Regions from separate parts of the Homo sapiens genome. Here region 2 is linked to region 1. The links come from fine-mapping of genetic effects on gene expression. A gene starts in region 1. The other region holds a variant in brackets. All regions are shown on one strand. Distances are from middle to middle.

Region 1 (5,379 bases):
GAGGCTGAGGCGGGTGGATCTGACGTCAGGAGTTCGAGACCAGCCTGGCCAACATGGTGAAACCCTGTCTCTACTAAAAATACAAAGATTAGCCAGGTGTGGTGGCACGCGCCTGTAATCCCAGCTACTCAGAAGGCTGAGGCAGGAGAATCCCTTGAACCCGGGAGGGGAGGTTGCAGTGAGTGAGATGGTGCCACAGCACTCCAGCCTGGGGGACAGAGCAACACTCCATCTCAAAATAATAATAAGGATGATATTAGAATGTAATATTAAGGGAAAAACTTAGTCCCAAAAGATTACATATAGCACAGAATCTTTTCTATAGAGAAGCAAGGGAATGATGAATATGGGGTTTGGGAAGAACTTACTTGGGCAGGGAGCTTGTAGTACAGTCCCTGCCTATCAAATATGTATAGCCAATATTTGTCGAATTAATAAACGAAAGACACTTGCTCTACCCACCTCAGGAGAGGGATGGATATGTGTGTGCAGGAGTGGGAACCTCATGGTTAGATGTAGGTTACTATTAAGTCCAGCTTTTGTTGGGGATGATGGGTTTATGGAGGCTTATTACATTGTTAAATCCAACTAACTAGCAAGTTACAAATGGGCCCTGCATGGACCAATAGTGAAAAAAGTCATGAAGCAAGGATTCTAGTTCCCCCAATGCTATGCACCCAAGGCTCAAGGAAAACATAAAAAAGCCATCACCTGGCTATGCTGAGTGGCTTGAGGAGGTCAAACTCATGTCCTCACCATGCTCTGCCCTTACTGTTGTGCTGCCTGAGTTTCCCCATGAGTAGCTCATTCTTTGGCTTTTCTTGAAGCTCTTTGGCAAATATCTGTGACACAGACAGGTCAGAGCTGATGGACAGATACACCTTTGGAAGAGGAGCTGCAGAAGGTCACGAGTACTGGGGCTCATGGGCAGGGAGGTAGGTGCATTTTAGGCCTGTGAGTGTCAACTGGGGGCCATCAATGTCGATGACATCCCTGAGCAGGATAGAAATAGGGACTTATGGCCAGCTGCATCTCCTCTGAGCCCAGAAGCAACAATCCTGAGCTAAGGAAAGGAGAGAATGGGTCTGAGAGATGTGGGTACCAGGTAAAATTCAGAGATCCAGCCAGACCCCATCACCATGGTGGGTCCCCGCCATGATCAGAAGATGCAAAGCTGAAACAAGGCAACTTCCTTATTTTCAGATGAGAAAACAGAGGTCGGATAGAATTGTCTTAACCTGGAGTTAATAGAGGGAAGGAGGAAGTTGAGAGGTCACCAAACAACACATGTGCTTCCTTCTGCTTTGCTGGAGATGTATTTATTTACCCCCAGCTTGAACTCAGCTTCTGCCTACAACTGTTACAGCCCCGGCCCAGCCCAGACCAAGCAAAGGCATTGGCCTTTCCCTTTCTGTTTGGGCCACTGGCTGGGCCAGGCCTGTCTTCTCTGTTGATTCAGTCTGCCGCAGAGCCCTGACTCATGGGTCCAGCCCAGCCAGTGTCTGACCTGGGGCTCATCCGGGAATGAAGCTCCTGCTGTGTGCAGTACAGTGGAAGGGCAAGAATGCCCAGGCCCCCAGGGCCCAGGTAGCGGGTGAGGTGGGGAGGTGGAAGTGGGTGGGTGTTCAATCACTGGAAAACCTGCCATTGCCTGATCAACTCAGAGAATCTTCTTTTCCTGCTTCTCGGTTTGTCACCGGCAGAGGAAGACATTAATCCAAGACCCAAATATGGAGGCAGAACCATTAGTTATTGCAGTTGAGTATTATTATATAATTTACGATGTCTTTCTTTCATAAATGCTGTCCTATATAATCCATGGAACAACCCTGAGAAATTGTCCCCATTTTACAGAAAAGGCAGCTGCTATGGCTTCGGAGCAAGTAAGGAACAGATCTAGCCCTTTGGGCCGGGTTTCTGGACTTGGTGGACTGTTGATTTCATTTCCCCATGGTTTCAGGAACTCATTTCGGTAACAGTCATTAGCTGGTGCTGGGTCCTTTTGAATCACTCCTCCCTTGCAATGCAGCCTTGTTGGATATAACCAGCATGCAGTCATCATGCAGAGATTGCCCCCAGCATCTCTCCAGCTCTTCCTCGGTGTGAAGGTAGAGTGACTTTGCTCAGTTCTGGGCTCTGCCATATCATCCATGAATGCGGTCAAGAGACCTCAAAGAGCATGTTGGGAAAGGGGCCTATTGCAGGGCTTGGTTCCCAGGAGGGGCTTTATTGATATTAGCATTTGTTCTTCCCTTTCTTCCATAAGTTCCCACCTTTCTCACCTGCCTCTTCTTCCTTTATTCCTATTCCCCACCCCTACCACTGTTTTAGATCATGGGGAACCTCCTGGTTGGGCTTAGCTCAGCTCCAAAAAGCAAACAGACATCTTAAGGTCAACTTCCTTTCCAGCTCAGAGAGAATGAACCCAGATACAAGGCAGCTCTTGTTTTTAAATGGAGTGAAGCTTAAGTGGCTGCAGAGAAGCCACAAAGTGTGCTGCAGAGAAGCCACCAGCCTGGAGAGTATGAGTTCTCATCTTGCCTTGTCTTCTGACTTGCTGTGTGGCTTTGGGCACACTCCTCAATGTCTCTGAACCTCAAGATCCCTTTGGGTAATTGGGAACTGCCCTTCAGAGATGGGATGAAAGAGTTAATAACCTCATAATGAAACAGGCAAGTCCACCAGGCTAATAAGGAGAGGAAGAAGAGGCGGCAGCTCAAGGAGGCCAAAGGAACAGAAAGCTCGGCCAGCTCCTGTCTGCCTCCCTTGCCAAGCATCCTGTCCCTGGGGCCTGATTTCTCTCTTCCTCTCTGCAATGCTGACTTGGCATTGACTTGCTCTGGAAAGAAGTCAGTAAGGGCAGAGCTGGAATGACTGGAGTGTGGACAAAGAGAGAAAAGCAGGGGCACACAAAAGAGGGTGACAGCTTCAGTCTTCCCTGGAGTCCAAGGCCCTGGCTTCCCATGGTCTCATAGGAAAACCTAGAGCCAGAGATGGTGCTGTTGCTAGGTGATGGGATAAACAGGTCCTTTGAGGCTTGGGCAGGTGGCAGTTAGGTTGCTGAGGCCAGTAATAAGCAGTGGGGAAAACCCAAGGGAGGGGGTGGGGAAAGTTCTTCGGGTAAGCCAAGAGACCCAGAGGTGCTTGCCGTCAGCTTGCAGAGTGGGGCCCGGCCACAGTGCTCCTCTGAGGGAGCCTCACTCTGCTCTCTGACCCCAGAACCTGCATCCCTCCCCAAAACCAACGGCAAGCAGCTGTGTCCTCTCCACTTGCAGCTGGAATAGGCAGTTTGATGCCTTTGCTGCGCTGGCAACAGGGCTCTCTCTCTTGGATGTCTCAGCCATGACAGGTAAGGAGAGGGTCACTGAGGGCTGGAAGATCATGGGGCAGGAGAGGAGGGAGTGAGTTTCCTGAGATGAGCCTGGTGGTGATGCAGCAGCCCAGAGTGCATGGGAGGTCCTCAGAGATGACTGATCATGCCGACTTCCAAGTATCCTGGGATCGCACCTGTTACTCTGTCTCTAGGCAGGTCGGCCACCAGCCCAGGCCATATGCCGCTGGGCATCTAAGCTCTCACGCAGAAATTCAGGGAGCATCCTCACAAACACTGCCTTGCGTTGAGTCATTATTAGAGCAGCACTTTTTCCTTTGGGTCTAACCTCAGCCTTGGCTGCTACATTAGAAACCATTTTGCCTTGTTCTAAACCACATAGGTGCTGACCTATTGGCAATTTGAGCCGAGCACCTCATCCCCCATCTCAGCACATAATGGCTCCAGGGCAGGGCCTGGGGCAGAAGGGAGGAGTCAGGCAGCCTGCCATTATCCCCTGCCAGCCTGCTGTTCAGCTCCCATCATTTAAGAATCAGCTTTTGTGTTCGGGCATAGCTCTTAGGTTCAGATAGGGCTGGGGAGGCAGGGAAGATGTAACTATTCCTATTTCACAAATGGAGAAACTGAGGCACAGCGCTTATGCTTTTTCCCCAGAGACAATGTGAAGGGCAGGAGTGAGGTATTTGTACATGCCCCTTGGGCTAAATTAAACTGAAGACAGACCTGGTTCCCACTGGAGGGCCCTGCTTCCAGGTGATGCTGCTGTTTACTGCAGTGCTTAGGAATCCCTCTGCGATCCTTCTCTTTGTCCTAGGGGAAGCAGCCCATTCTCTCCCACCTTTCTGAACTCTCAACAGCTCTACTTTGCTCAGCTTTCCCTCTGTTCCAGAGTGGTGGGTCCATCTGAGCCCACCTTCCCCTCCTGGAAGGGTCTGATAGGAAGGAAGGTGCCACCATCTTTGCACACCTGAGGACAATGCCTGGACAATGGCTGGAGGGGACTCGAGAGGGCCAGAAGGGGTCCCGCCACACAGTTCAGCCTTTCAGCCTGGCAGGGACCCTCATGGGTTTGCCATTGGGAAGGGCTGATGGATTTTAAAGCTTAGAGGGGTTCTCTCAACCTTGCAATTTACCTGAACTGAGGACCTGCCATCCATGGAGCAGTCTGACGTTAATTTAAAAAGGTTCAAAGACAGAGTTTATACCATCTTTCAAGAATCGTACTCACTTTTGCTTGTCCTGAGTTGTCCTTTAAACTTTAAGAGGGAGGGAAATGGCAGGGAGGGAAAAGGAACTGATTGGGACTGACTCCAGCCAGGAGTTTGAGACCAGCCTGGCCAACATAGTGAAACCCCATCTCTACTAAAAATACAAAAAATTAGCTGGGCGTGGTGGCAGGTGCCTGTAATCCCAGCTACTCGGGAGGCTGAGGCAGGAGAATCGCTTGAACCTGGGAGGCGGAGGTTGCAGTGAGCCAAGATCCTGCCACTGTACTCCAGCCAGGGCAACAGTGTTAGACTCTGTCTCAAAAAAAAAAAAAAAGAAGAAGAAGATCTGACTCCTCCATCTGTAGAACAACTTTTGAGCAAGTCACTAAACAGCTCCTGGACCCAGTTTCCTTCTTTGGAATGTGGGTACAATAAAAGCGACTTCACAAGATGATGGGGAGAAAGATTCTGTAAGGTGCGCCACCTGCTCAGCACCGTGCACATTTTCAGCACCTTTGCAAGCCCCCAGGAGCCCCATCTGGTCTTTGCATGATTTTACAGACTTGCTCATAGTCCCCTAGGTTGGTCTTTGCAGTTTGAGGGGTCTCAGCTGCCTTGATCAGAAGGGGGTTGTCCCTTGATCCTGCTCCTCCTGAACTCTGAGGCAGGGACACTGGCCTGAATCCAGCTCTGCCTCTTCCCAGCCATGAAGTCTTGAGCAAGTTAATAAATTTTTCTGAGTCTCAGTTTTCTCATCTGTAAAATGGGGAGAATATGACTTAATTCACAGGGTTGTTGGTGAGAATTATTGATGACACATGTGATGTGCCTGGCTTGGTG
Region 2 (5,379 bases), 66 kb after region 1:
TACGGAGGGTCGGTTGAAAGGAAATGTAGTCTATTTCTTCCTAAGGATAGTTTAGGCCTTCCTTGATGTAATAAAAAAAGAGTTATGATATCAACCATGGGCACCAGAATTCCTCATAGGAAAAGAAATGTCTTGTTTGAACAAATAACTTGACAGGTTCTTCAAAATTGGAAAATTGTTGGCCATATCTCATCAAAATTTTTTTTTCTGTTTTCCCTCGTTTTCTCCTTCAGGGAATCTAATTACACATATATTAGGTGGCTTGAAGTTGTCCTGCACCTCACTAATACTCTTTTCTTTCTTTCTTTCTTTTTTTTTTTTGGAGAAGGCATCTCACTCTATCACCCAGGCTGAAGTGCAGTGCAACCTCCACCACCCAGGTTCAAGCATTCTCCTTCCTCAGCCTCCCGAGTTGCTGGTATTACAGGCACACGCCACCACACCTGGCTAATTTTTTTATATTTTTGGTAGAGATGGTGTTTCACTATTTTGGCCAGGCTCGTCTGGAACTCCTGACCTCAAGTGATCCATCCACCTTGGCCTCCCAAAGTGCTGGGATTACAGGCGTGAGCCACCACGCCCAGCTTTTTCATTTGTTTTATTACTTTTTTTCCCCTCTATGTCTCACCTTGGATAGTTCCTATTGCTATGCCTTCAAGTGCACTACTTTTTTCTTCTGTGATGCCTAGTGTGCTGTTAATTCCATTCAATGTAATTTTCATCTCAGATGTTGTAGTTTTCATCCCTGGAAATAATTTGGGTCTTAAAAAATGGGGTCTTTTACACAAGAAGGGGAACATCACACTCTGGGGACTGTTGTGGGGTGGGGGGAGGGTGGAGGGATAGCATTAGGAGATATACCTAATGCTAACTGACGAGTTAATGGGTGCAGCACACCAGTATGGCACATGTATACATATGTAACTAATCTGCACATTGTGCACATGTACCCTAAAACTTAAAGTATAATAATAATAAAATAGAAAAAAAGGGTCTTTTATAATTTGAGACTTATTGAATCTCTCTTTCTCCCTCTCCCTCTTTTTCACACACACATGAAATTGAGGCTTTTGGTGGTTAAATAACTTGCTGAAGGCCTCAGACTGATGAGTGAATAGGATTCAGACCCAGGCTGCAGGATTCCAAGGCCTGTGCTCTGTTGGTTGTTCTGTTCATTATGGGTCATTTTGCTCTGCCTCTCTGAGTGCCTGGTAATATTTGACTGAATGAGGATATTGTGAATTTTACTTTGCTGAGTGGTAGATATTTTTGTTTGCCTATAAATATATTGGGAAGCAGTTAAGTTAGTTGGAAGCAGTTTGACCTTTTTGGGTCTTGGTTTTATGATTTGTTAGATGGGTTCGGAGCAGTAGACAAATCATAAAACCAAGACCCAGTGTAGTGGAAATAATTAGCCTTAGGCTGAACAGTCTAAGGCTAATTATTCTCACCACTAAGGCAAGAACTTCCTGAGTTCCCTATCCAATACCCTGTGAATTACGAGTTTTTCTAGTCTGGTTTATGGGAATAGGCCCTGCTTCTAGCCCTATTTGAATGCTAGACACTGTTTCCCACGAATGCTTTCAGATGATTCTCTGGCCTCAGGTAGCTCCTTTATACACAGGCACTCATTACTTATTGAATACTTGAGGGGGTCCCTCTGCACATAGCTGGATTCTTTACCTGATGTAGCTCTTTCCTCTGTCTTGTGAACTTTAGCTGCCTTGGACTGTCTCCTCAACTTACATTTTTGCTATGTTGTGTTTTCAATATCATTCAGATCTAAGTATTTTCTAATTTCCCTTGTGATATCTTCTTTTACCCAGGATGTTTTTAGAAGTGTGTTGTTTAATTTCCAAATATTGGGATGTTTTCCAGATATCTTTTTGTCTTTATTTTCCAATATAATTCTGTGGTCAGGGAACATATTGTATATTATTTTAACTTTTAAAAATTTATTGAGATTTACTTACTAAGACTTATTGTTGGGCCAGGGGCGGTGGCTCACGCCTGTAATCCCAGCACTTTGGGAGGCCAAGGCAGGCGGATCATGAGGTCAAGAGATCAAGACCATCCTGGCCAACATGGTGAAACCCTGTCTCTACTAAAATTACAAAAATTATCTGGGCATGGTGGCAGGCACCTGTAGTCCCAGCTACTCGGGAGGCTGAGGCAGGAGAATCACTTGAACCTCACTTGAACCAGGGAGGTGGAGGTTGTTGTGAGCTGAGATTGCACCACTGCACTCCAGCCTGGTGACAGAGCAAAACTCCATCTCCATCTCAAAAAAAAAAAAAAAAAAAAGACTTATTGTTTTATGGTTTAGCATATGATCTGTCTTGATGAATGCTCCATATATACTTGAGAACAATGTGTATTCCCCAGATGTTGGATGTAGTGTTCTGTAAATGTCTACAAGGTCAAGTTAGCTGGCAGTGTTGTTTGTGTCCTCTATATCCTTAGCTGATTTCCTGTTCTATCAATTGCTGAGAGAGAAGAGTTGAATTCTCTAATAATAATTATGAATTTTTAAAGTTTGTCTTTCAGTTCTACTCATTTTTTCTTTTTATATTTTAAAGCTATATAATGAAATGTCCTCTTGATGAGTTGTCCCTCTTATCATTATGAAATGTCCTTCTTCATCCTTGGTAATATTTCTTGTTTTAAAATCGTTTTTGTCTGATATCCA[C/T]AGAGCCACTTCAGCTTTCCTTTGATTAGTTTTTATATGGTATATCTTTATTTTCCCTTTTATATGTGACTGTGATAAGTTAAAGATACATTTTATAAACCCTAGAATAATGAATAAAAACTATAGGAAAGATGTATAGCAAATGATATAAAATTAGACATAACGGAAAAATTTAATAAATAATTGGAAATTATAAAAAGAATTAAGTTAAAATTATGGAAATGAAAAACACCATAACAAATTAAAACACTAAGGATGATTAATAGCAGATTAGACACAGCTGAAGAAAGAATTAGTCAGCTAGAAGATAGGCCCAGAAAAAAATATCTAAGACTGAAGTTTAGAGTGACAAAAGTAAGTAAAAAGAAAAAACAATTTTATTGTTAATGTCAAACTTTTAAACTGAATTTTCAGTAACATTCACAATAATTTCCAATGTTTTACCTCCTACAGAGTAAGCTTCTAAAAGCTTTACTTTGACTTCATGAGTTAGATGAAAACATTGAGCTAGTATTAAAATTAAATTAACTGTTACTCTTTTCTTATACCAGCCATAATTCTATAACTCATGTCCATCTTAATAAATAGTAAAAAAAAAAACCTTACCCTGTGAATTTGGAAACTAAAAACGCACTGCCAAATACCTCAAGGGTTAAAGAAGATATCCCAGTGGAAATTAAAAAACATTTAGATCAGACAAAGGTAAAAATATTACGTATCAAGTCTTATAAAATGAAGCTAAAGTGATGCTTAGGGGTAAATTTAGAGCATCAAATACATATATCAAGGTACATTATACTGGAAGTTCTAACCAATACAATTAGACAAGAAAAATAAACTGAGACATATAAGAACAGAAAGTAAGAAAGCAAATGGCCTTTATTTGCGGACAATATAATAGTCTACATATCCAAGGAAGACCAGAAGAAAATGATTAGAATGAGAGAATTCAGCAACACTATTACATGGAAAACCAATATACACAAAACAAGCTCCTGTTCACACTTACAACAACATTATAAAGTACTGAGGAATAAATCTAGCAAGAAGAGTACCAAACCTTTAAGGGACAAATTATAAAACATATGACAGTCTATAAAAGATGACCCAAAATAAATGAAAACATTTGCCATACTTGTAAGTTTGTAGACTCAGTATCTCAAATATATAAGTTTTATCCAAATAAACCTATACATTTACTGTTATCTCAATCAAATTCTAATAGAGATTTTCACTGACCTTGAAAAACGAATTCCCAAATTCACAAGAAAGAGAAAAGTACTCAGAATAACTAACATGCTTATGAGGGAGGATAGAGTGGAGCGTTTATTTTACCAGCTATCAAGATTTATTTATATATTTATTTATTTAGTCAGTTAGTTATGATGGAGTCTCGCTCTCTCACCCAGGCTGGAGTGCACTAGTGCGATCTTGGCTCACTGCAACCTCTGCTGCCTGGGTTCAAGTAATTCTCCTGCCTTAGCCTCCTGAGTAGCTGGGATTACCTTTGCCCGCTACCACACCTGGCTAATTTTTGTATTTTTAGTAGAGATGGGGTTTCACCATGTTGACCAGGCTGGTCGTCTTGAACTCCTGACCTCAGTTGATCCGACAACCTTGGCCTCCCAAATGCTGGGATTACAGGCGTGAGACACCATGCCCAGCCGAGATTTATTATGAGACCATAGTAATTAAGATAATGTAGCAGTGTTTGTCATTACATGTCTAGTGTCCAGTGACAGACACGTAGACCAATAGAATACAGTTGAAAGCCCAGAAAAAGAAGCAGGCACATCTGTTTAACTTGATATATGAAAGCAGCAGCAATGAAGGGGAAAAGGATGGAAAATTAATTTCCATACAAAAATTATGGAGATAATGTATACAAAAATGAATTCCAGGTTGATTAAAGTCCGAAACTGTAAAAAACAAAACGTTAAAACTTCTAGAAAAAAAATAAGGAGTATGTCTCGGAGGAGAGATGGATGTCTTAAATAAGATTTTTAAAAAGCACAAATAGATAAATTTGATTAAAATATTAGTTAAAATTCTGCTCAAAAAAGACACTATAGGCAAACTTAAGAGGCAAACCACAGCCAAAGACTTTGGGGGACCCCTTTGCAGATCTCTGAGAGTCCTTGTCTCTGTCCAGCTCCCTTCTCTCTGGTATTTTGTCCGTAAATTCTAGCTTCCTGGGCTTCCCTGAACTTAAATTCTGACTCCTCAATTTGACTGCTGGGCTCTTTCTGGGTTTTCCCTCCTGTGCTGGAACTCGGGGAACTCACCCAGGCAATAAGCCAGGCAATCCTAGAGAGCTCTTCATTTTACTTCCTTCCTTCAGGGATCACTATTCTGTACTACCTTTGCCCATTGTTTTAGATGGTTTGTTGGTTTTCTAGTTATGAAAGTAGGAAAGTAAACCTGGTCCCTATTATTCCACCATGGCCAGAAGTGGAAGTGGTCCTAACATAATTTTCATAAAGTTTGAAAACATGTAAAACAATGCTATATATCTCTATATCTACATAGATATATAGAATTTGTTAAAAATATGAAGTAATGGTATAAAAAAGGTGTACAGCAGAGATAAACACCAAATTTGGGAGGGTATTTACTTGGAGGGAGAGATAGGAGAGGACTACTCTGAAATTGAGCTACTTTATAAGTAAGAAAGGCAGCATTTTAGAATT

What was found. PIP is the estimated chance that this variant, and not a neighbour inherited with it, causes the effect. A credible set is the group of variants that fine-mapping cannot tell apart.
Region 2: its variant is the best candidate, but not a certain one, in a credible set for the expression of SMIM35 in whole blood (INTERVAL, PIP 0.60).

What each region holds. Positions count from the first base shown.
Region 1 is chr11:118,084,721-118,090,099 of GRCh38, reverse strand. SMIM35 (small integral membrane protein 35) reads left to right here and starts at 3,137. Exons shown (of 5, transcript NM_001394165.1): 1 at 3,137-3,349. The coding sequence starts at 3,343. All of the region lies in intron 1 of TMPRSS4 (transmembrane serine protease 4), which reads right to left.
Region 2 is chr11:118,018,958-118,024,336 of GRCh38, reverse strand. The region is part of intron 1 of SMIM35 (small integral membrane protein 35); the gene reads left to right. Among named protein-coding and RNA genes, the nearest start is that of IL10RA, 35 kb to the right of the region's middle. The variant C/T (reference allele first, on the strand shown) is at 2,690.